Linked DNA regions of Homo sapiens. The protein of the gene in region 1 purifies or fractionates together with the protein of each later gene. This does not show direct contact. Each region holds a gene or a part of one and is shown in the gene's direction. Other genes may lie near its edges.

The links. The genes of interacting proteins can lie anywhere in the genome.
Region 2: the proteins of CEACAM16 (region 1) and ODF2 purify together in Homo sapiens (affinity purification with mass spectrometry; one large-scale study listed by BioGRID and IntAct). This does not show direct contact.

Annotation. Positions count from the first base shown.
Region 1 is NC_000019.10:44,697,649-44,701,398, forward strand, and holds the start of CEACAM16 (cell adhesion molecule CEACAM16 precursor), read left to right. Parts: upstream 1-1,502; 5' UTR 1,503-1,612; intron 1,613-3,712; 5' UTR 3,713-3,750. UniProt on the Homo sapiens protein: Required for proper hearing, plays a role in maintaining the integrity of the tectorial membrane.
Region 2 is NC_000009.12:128,497,506-128,501,155, forward strand, and holds part of ODF2 (outer dense fiber protein 2), read left to right. Parts: intron 1-907; coding exon 908-1,070; intron 1,071-1,495; coding exon 1,496-1,621; intron 1,622-2,561; coding exon 2,562-2,750; 3' UTR 2,751-3,650. UniProt on the Homo sapiens protein: Seems to be a major component of sperm tail outer dense fibers (ODF).

The DNA of each region.
Region 1 (3,750 bases):
AACATGCTGTGAGCCTCTGCTCTGTGCCAGGTGATTTGCTGGGCAGTGCTGGGGACACAGTGGTGACAGCCCAGCCGTGCCCAGCTGAGGCTCCCAGGCCAGTGGGGGAAAAAGACCCAGCCCCAGACAGCGAGAACCCAAGGCAGTCAGGGCTGAGACAGGGAATTCCAGGCCCTGAAGTCCAGGAGGGCTTCCTGGAGGAGAGGGTTTGGGGAAGGCAGTGGAATAGAGCAGAGGGAAGCAGGGATATTCTGGGTAGAGTGCAAGTGAAACAGAAGAACTGAAGCAGAGGGTTCCCGGAAGCAAGTGGTATTCTATGTAGCTGGTCAGGTGGGCAGGAGTCAGGCCGGGCAGGGCCTCCTGGGCTACAGTGAGGAACCTGGGCTTCCTCCCAAGGGCACTGGGGAGCCACAGCAGGTTCTGAGCACGGAGGGGCAGAGGCAGGTTTTTGTTTTGGAAAGAGCCTCTGTCTGCCATGTGGAGGGGCAATGGGAGTCGGGGAGACCAGGGCCAGAGACTAGGGAGGAGGCTGGTGGGGAGACAGGAGGACCCAGGCAAGGTGGGGTGGTGGAGTGGTCACCTAGACCAGGGCAGGGGCTTCAGGGAGGGAGAGAAGATATACGTAGAGTCAGTTGCCAGAAGGGGTGGCGTGTTCGGGGAGTAGGGGGAGGCATCAGGGATGAGGCCCCAGGTCTCTTTTCCCAGCGATGAGGTGGGTAGTGGCGCCTTCCCTGATAAGGGCACCAGGGGAAGATACACTTCTGGGGGAAGATGCCAAGGTCAGTTTGGGACAAGGTGAGTGAGAGGTGCCCAGGGACATCAGGGAGGCATCCTGATTGATACTGGGATGAGGTCCCAGTGCTCTGGGCCAGGACGCAGAAGAGTGAGGTGAGGTCACAGGTGGGGAGAGGGGAGCAGGAGGCGCCAGGACATCCTCTGTGCCTCTCACCTGGCCTCACCCGCACCTCCTCAGGGCCTTCTCCCCCTTGTTAGAGCCCTGCCCCACGAGGGCAGCCCAGGACACAGTGCTGGAGGCAAACCAGGACAGGTGAGCACAGGTGTGGCCCCCTGCCCGGAAGCAGGCTGCAGAGGCCTCAGAGGAACCAGGACTCAGAAGCCATCAGGATGCAGGTCATAAGAACACAGCTATCAGCAGCTCTGGCACCACAACCCCCTCGGCTCCTGCCCAGCATCATCTCAGAGACACCTTCCCTGTTACCCTCCCTCCACCCCAATTTAAAGTAGCAAACCAGGCCAGGGGCAGTGGCTCATGGCTGTAATCCCAGCACTTTGGGAGGCCAAGGTGGGAAGATCACTTGAGGCCAAGAGTTTGAGACCAGGCAGAGCAACATAGCGAGATCCCATCTCTACAAAAAATAAAATGGCAAATCCCCTTTCTGACTTTATTTTTCAATCTGACGTGGAAGATATTTACCTTTCCTTTATTTACTCCGCAAATGTCGGCCCCCTGAGGGCAGGGATTTCATCCGTCTTGTGCACGGCTGCATCCTCAGCGCCTAGAACAGCACCTGGCAAACAATAGGTGCTCATTCAGTATTTGTCCAATAAGTGAATGAGTGATTTACTGAGCATTTACTCTGCGCCAGTCGTGGTAAGTACTGTACTTCACATGTGTATCTACTTAATCCTTTCAACAGCCCTGTGATGTGAGTACTATTGTTTTCCCTATTTTACAAATAAGGAAACTGAGGCTTGGCAGAGTCCATAAATTGCCCAGGGTCCTGGAGGTAGGAAACAGTGGAACTATGTCCAGAGCCTATACTTTTTTTTTTTTGAGATGGAGTTTCACTCTTTTGCCCAGGGTTCAAGCAATTCTCCTGCTTCAGCCTCCCAAGTAGCTGGGATTACAGGTGCCCGCGACCACACCCAGCTAATTTTTGTATTTTTAGTAGAGACAGGGTTTCACCATGCTGGCCAGGCTGGTCTTGAACTCCTGACCTCAGTTGATCCACCCACCTCGGCCTCCCAAAGTGCTAGGACTACAGGCATGAGCCACTGCGTCCGGCCATGAGCCACCACGCCCGGCCAGAGCCTATACTTTTAATAACAGGCATACCAATCAGACCCACGTCCACCAGGCTCTGGCTTAAATCCCTGACTTGTAGCCTCTCACTAACTGCTGTCAACAAACCTGAAGTAGGGTCCATATCATCTCTATTTTTTTGTTTGTTTTTGAAATGGAGTCTTGCTCTGTCACCCAGGCTGGAGTGCAGTGGCAGGATCTCGGCTCACTGCAACCTCTACCTCCTGGATTCAAGCGATTCTCCTACCTCAGCCTCCCTAGTAGCTGGGATTACAGGCATGTGCCACCATGACCGGCTAACTTTTATTTTTTGTTTTTGCTTTTGTTTTTTGAGATAGAGTCTCACTCTGTCACCCAGGCTGGAGTGCAGTGGTGTGATCTCAGCTCGCTGCAACCTCCACCTCCTGGGTTCAAGAGATTCTCCTGCCTCAGCCTCTCGAGTAGCTGGGACTACAGGTGCACACCACCACACCCAGCTAATTTTTTATATTTTTAGTACATACGAGGTTTCACCATATTGGCCAGGCTGGTCTCGAACTCCTGACCTCGTGAGCCACCTGCCTTGGCCTCCCAAAGTGTTGGGATTACAGGCGTTAGCCACCACACCCAGCTAACTTATATTTTTAATAGAGACGGGGTTTCGCCATGTTGGTCAGGCTGGTTGCAAACTCCTCACCTCAGGTGATCTGCCCATCTCAGCCTCCCAAAGTGCTGGGACTACAGGCACCTGCCACCACGCCTGGCTATTTTTATTATTATTATTTTTAGTAGAGATGGGGTTTCGCCATGTTGGCCAGGCTGATCTCGAACTCCTGACCTCAAATGATCCGCCTGCCTTGGCCTCCCGAAGTGCTGGGATGACAGGCATGAGCCAGTGCACCCGGCCATCATCTCTATTTATCAGAATAATAAATGGAGACTCAACAAGGGACTGTCCCCAGCCCCACTTTGGGTAAGTGCAGAGCTGGTGTCAAAACTCAGCTCTCCTTGGCCCCAAAGCCTCCGAATACGCCCATTTGACAGAGAGGGGAAAACAAGGCCTCCGAAGTGGGAGAAAGAGAATGTGAACTTCTGAGCACTTTGCAGGAAGCCAACAAGAAGGAGAGCCCCAAAGAAAGCATGTGGCCATACAGTTTCCTGCCCTTCTGTCTGGGTTTGCACACAGAGCAGGGCTCAAATCCCCTCTCCCTGCAGGAACCCGGACAAGTGGGAGTCCCCACCTAGCTCATCTCCATCTGCAAAGGGGGGTCCTAAAGGTGCCCACTTTACAGGGTTGTTTTGCCATCCGCTGAGACAACACCTGTAGGTCCCCTGCACTGGGTGGGGCTGGGAAAGGTGCAGTCACCTTTTACTGATTTTCTTCCTTGGTGACTCCCAGGCTCTCTGAGGAGGCCACGGGCCTGGGTGGTTGGTAAGAACTACCCGAAAACCTTCCCCTACTTTTCCTCTCTTCTCCTCGGTGACCTGGTTCCTCTCCCAGTACCAAATCCAGGCCCTCGGCACAAAGAGGGTTAGGCGGCTGCCCCAGGAGGCCTGCCCAGGTCACGGCCTCTGGCCGGTGCCCGCCACACCCACCCTGGTACCCAAACCGGGCCCCAGATCCTTGGTGACTCGATCCCTCCAAATTCAGGTGATCTCCCCTGGCTCCAAATCACCAAACCCTCCCAGGTCCTGCGGCAGACGGAGCCGAGCCCCAACCAGGAAGG
Region 2 (3,650 bases), on another chromosome or scaffold:
CAGTGGCGGGCGCCTGTAGTCCCAGCTACTCGGAAGGCTGAGGCAGGAGAATGGCGTGAACCCGGGAGGCGGAGCTTGCATTGAGCCGAGATAGCACCACTGCACTCCAGCCTGGGCGAAAGAGCAAGACTCCATCTCAAAAAAAAAGAGGTGGGCAAGAGTCCTCCAGCCCTGGTCCCAGCCTTAGTTTCAGAGGTGAAGGTGCCTGACATCCTAGGAGGCCCTAAGTGCCTCAGGTGGCCAGTGCACTTGCAAGGAGGCTACAACCAAGTGGGCTCCTTCCAGGCTCCACCTCTGCTCTGCCCTGCCAGCCTTGGAAATGGCAGCTAGATCCCCCAGGCCCTGCAGAGCTCCTTAAATTGGAAGGCATCCTGGAAGTGCACTGAGGACAGTGTGTGTATATCGGGATGGCCATATTTGCCCTATGGCTGGTCACACAAGATGTTGAGTGGTGTAGCTGAAGTCCCTTTGCTGTGGGAGGCAGCAGTGAACAGCAGAAGTTGCAGGCTTAGGTTTTGGTTACAGACTTGCCAGCTGTGCTGACTTCAGGCCAATGAATTCCCCTCTCTGAGGCTCAGTTTCTTCATTTCTGAAGTGGGGATAATAATGGTACCATTTTTCTGAGCTGCAAGTTGCTGTGTTCCATGTGATGCTATCCACACTTAACAAAGCCCACGGTCAGTCTCTGCGTTCCCACCCTTCACTCTGTTCTCTAACCAGTTGCTCCAGCTGCACAGTTCTTTGGTCGCCTTGCTGATCTGCAGATTTCTTTGGCTTATTCCTGTGGCTCCTTGGAGATTCTTGGCATGATGAGATCCCCAGTCCAGGAGAGGCTGGCAGCCCCCTGGCGGGGTGGAACATGACAGGTTGGGGTATGCCCAGGATCTGATTGAGTGCTTTCACCTAGGAAACTGGAGGCGACCAGTGCCCAGAATATCGAGTTCCTACAGGTGATTGCCAAGAGGGAGGAGGCAATCCACCAGTCCCAGCTGCGGCTGGAGGAGAAAACACGGGAATGTGGGACCCTGGCAAGGCAGTTGGAGAGTGCCATTGAAGATGCGAGGAGGCAGGTCAGTCCCGATTTCATGAATGACTAGCTCTGTGACCTTGGGCAAATCACCTAAACTCTCAGCTTATTTCTCCATCTGAAAAATGGGCACACAGTAGTACCCGCTTCATGAATTAGTTGTAAGGATCACATTTTCATCGTAGAGGGCTCAGCACTTGATATCTGATGATTGCTCATTTACTCACTACCCTCTTGAGCCTCACATAGGCTTACCACATCTTAGGTGGTGACTCCTGGAGCACTGGCAAAGCTGGGTGGCAGGCATAGTCCCCATAGTTAGTTCCTGCCCCAGCGTTCTAGAGAACACAGTCCACAATGATGTGCAAGTGCTGTCTGCAAGACCAGATAGTGGGCCCAGCCTTCTCTTTGCCAAGTGTTCCCCATGTCCGGTAAACCAGTCTCATGTCTGGGCCTTTGAATGTGCAGGTGGAACAAACCAAGGAGCACGCACTCTCCAAGGAGCGAGCAGCCCAGAACAAAATCCTGGACCTTGAGACCCAGCTGAGCAGAACCAAAACGGAATTGAGCCAGCTGCGGCGGAGCCGTGATGATGTGAGTCAGGCTGGTGGGCCGGGCTAGGAGAGTGGGCAGCAGACCTAGCTTCTGTGGGGCCTGTGGGCCAAGGTGTTTTGTTGTTACTGTTTTTGTGAATATGACATGGTTTTATTTTTCTCCAATCACTTTCTATCCCTTAAGGATATCCTGGGTAGATATTTATTTATTTATTTAGAGACGGAGTCTCCCTGTGTCACCCAGGCTGGAATGCAGTGGTACGATCTCAGCTCACTGCAACCTCTGCCTCCTGGTTTCATATGATCCCCACCCCACCCTCAGCCTCCCAAGTAGCTGGGATTACAAGTATGTGCCACCATCCCTGGCTACTTTTTTGTGTGTATTTTTAGTAGAGATGGGGTTTCGCCATGTTGGCCAGGCTGGTCTTCAACTCGTGATCTCAAATGATCTGCCCATCATGGCCTCCCAAAGTGCTGGGATTACAGGTGTGAGCCACTGCACCCAGACTCACGTTTTGTTTTGTTTTGTTTTGTTTTGTTTTAGACAGAGTTTCATTCTGTCACCCAGGCTACAGTGCAGTGGTGCTGTCATAGCTCACTGCAGCTTCAAACTCCTGGGGTCAAGTAGTCCTCCCACCCCAGCCTCCTGAGCAGCTAGGACTACAGGCGCACACCATCACACCCAGCTAATTTTTGTATTTTTTGTAGAGATAGAGTCTCACTATGTTGCCCATGCTGGTCTTGAACTCCTAGGCTCCAGTGATCATTCCGTCCTGACCTCCCGAAGTGTTGGGATTATAGGCATGAGCCACTGTGCCTGGTCTTAGAATATTTTCAGAAAGAAACCCCATACCCATTAGAAGTCACTCCACACTCGCCTCCCCAAACCTCCTGGCAACTCCTAAGAAAGTCCCTATGTCTCTATGGATTTCTATTTTGGACACTGCACAGCGGGCCCATGCTCTGTTTCTCCTCGTTAGGCGGACCGCCGCTACCAGAGCCGGCTGCAAGACCTGAAAGATCGCCTGGAGCAGTCCGAGAGCACCAACCGCAGCATGCAGAACTACGTCCAGTTCCTCAAATCATCATACGCCAACGTGTTTGGGGATGGTCCCTATTCCACCTTCCTGACTAGCTCTCCCATCCGCTCCCGATCTCCTCCTGCCTGAGGCCACTTATCAGGGCCTGGAGCCCTGATGGAAGCCATAGGAACTCCAGAGTTGCCAAGCCATAGCTGAGAAGCCTGGTGGTTTTCCTCTCCCAGTGAAAAAATGGGTTCAGGGTCTTGTCCTTAGCTACTAGCTCTAGAAAAGTCCCAAAAGCAGCAGAAGGTGAAGCAGGAAGCACTTGGTTTTCTCCTTCCTGATATAGTCACCTGTTGGAAGTGTTAAAATTTCCTCGACAGGCCTTAAATTTACTACTACATTAGGGTACCACATTTTAACTTACCATGACTTTGCTCCTTCCTTTCCTGAGAAAATATTTCCACTGGATTTTTTCCACCAGTCCCCTTACAGCCCTCATTGTTTTAGGAATCTCTCTCAGGTTTTTTCTGACCTAAACCAGCAGGAAGTCGTCCTGGGCTGTAAGCACCATCACTTGCTTTTTTTTTTTTTCTGATTTCACAAGTGTGGTGTTTTCCCAAGGCTCCCTTCCCAAGCTCAGTGCAAACCTCTCACTCCCAAGTTTCTTTGAGGCCACTTGCCCCCAAGCACTTCACAATAGACCCTCGAGGGCTTGTGTCCATTTGGCCTTTTACAAGTGTAATGCCAATTTCATTGATTTTTGTTTCTTTTGGCCTGATTTGTATCTCTGGAATGCATTTATTCTTGAAATATTTGTGTGATTTTACAAAAAGCTTTTGTAATCAGTTATTTAAGGCTCCATTTGATGATTTCCTTTACCCAACCAGTCCTCATCCCTCCTCTAAAAAATGATTAAGTAAAATGCTGCAGGACAGCCAGTAGACATTTTTAAAGTACTTGGTGCCTGAAACATCAGGCTTCTCATTTCATTTTAGCTCAGGTTGGTGCTTTCACATTGTAATCAATGAACTGTCAGGAGGGAAC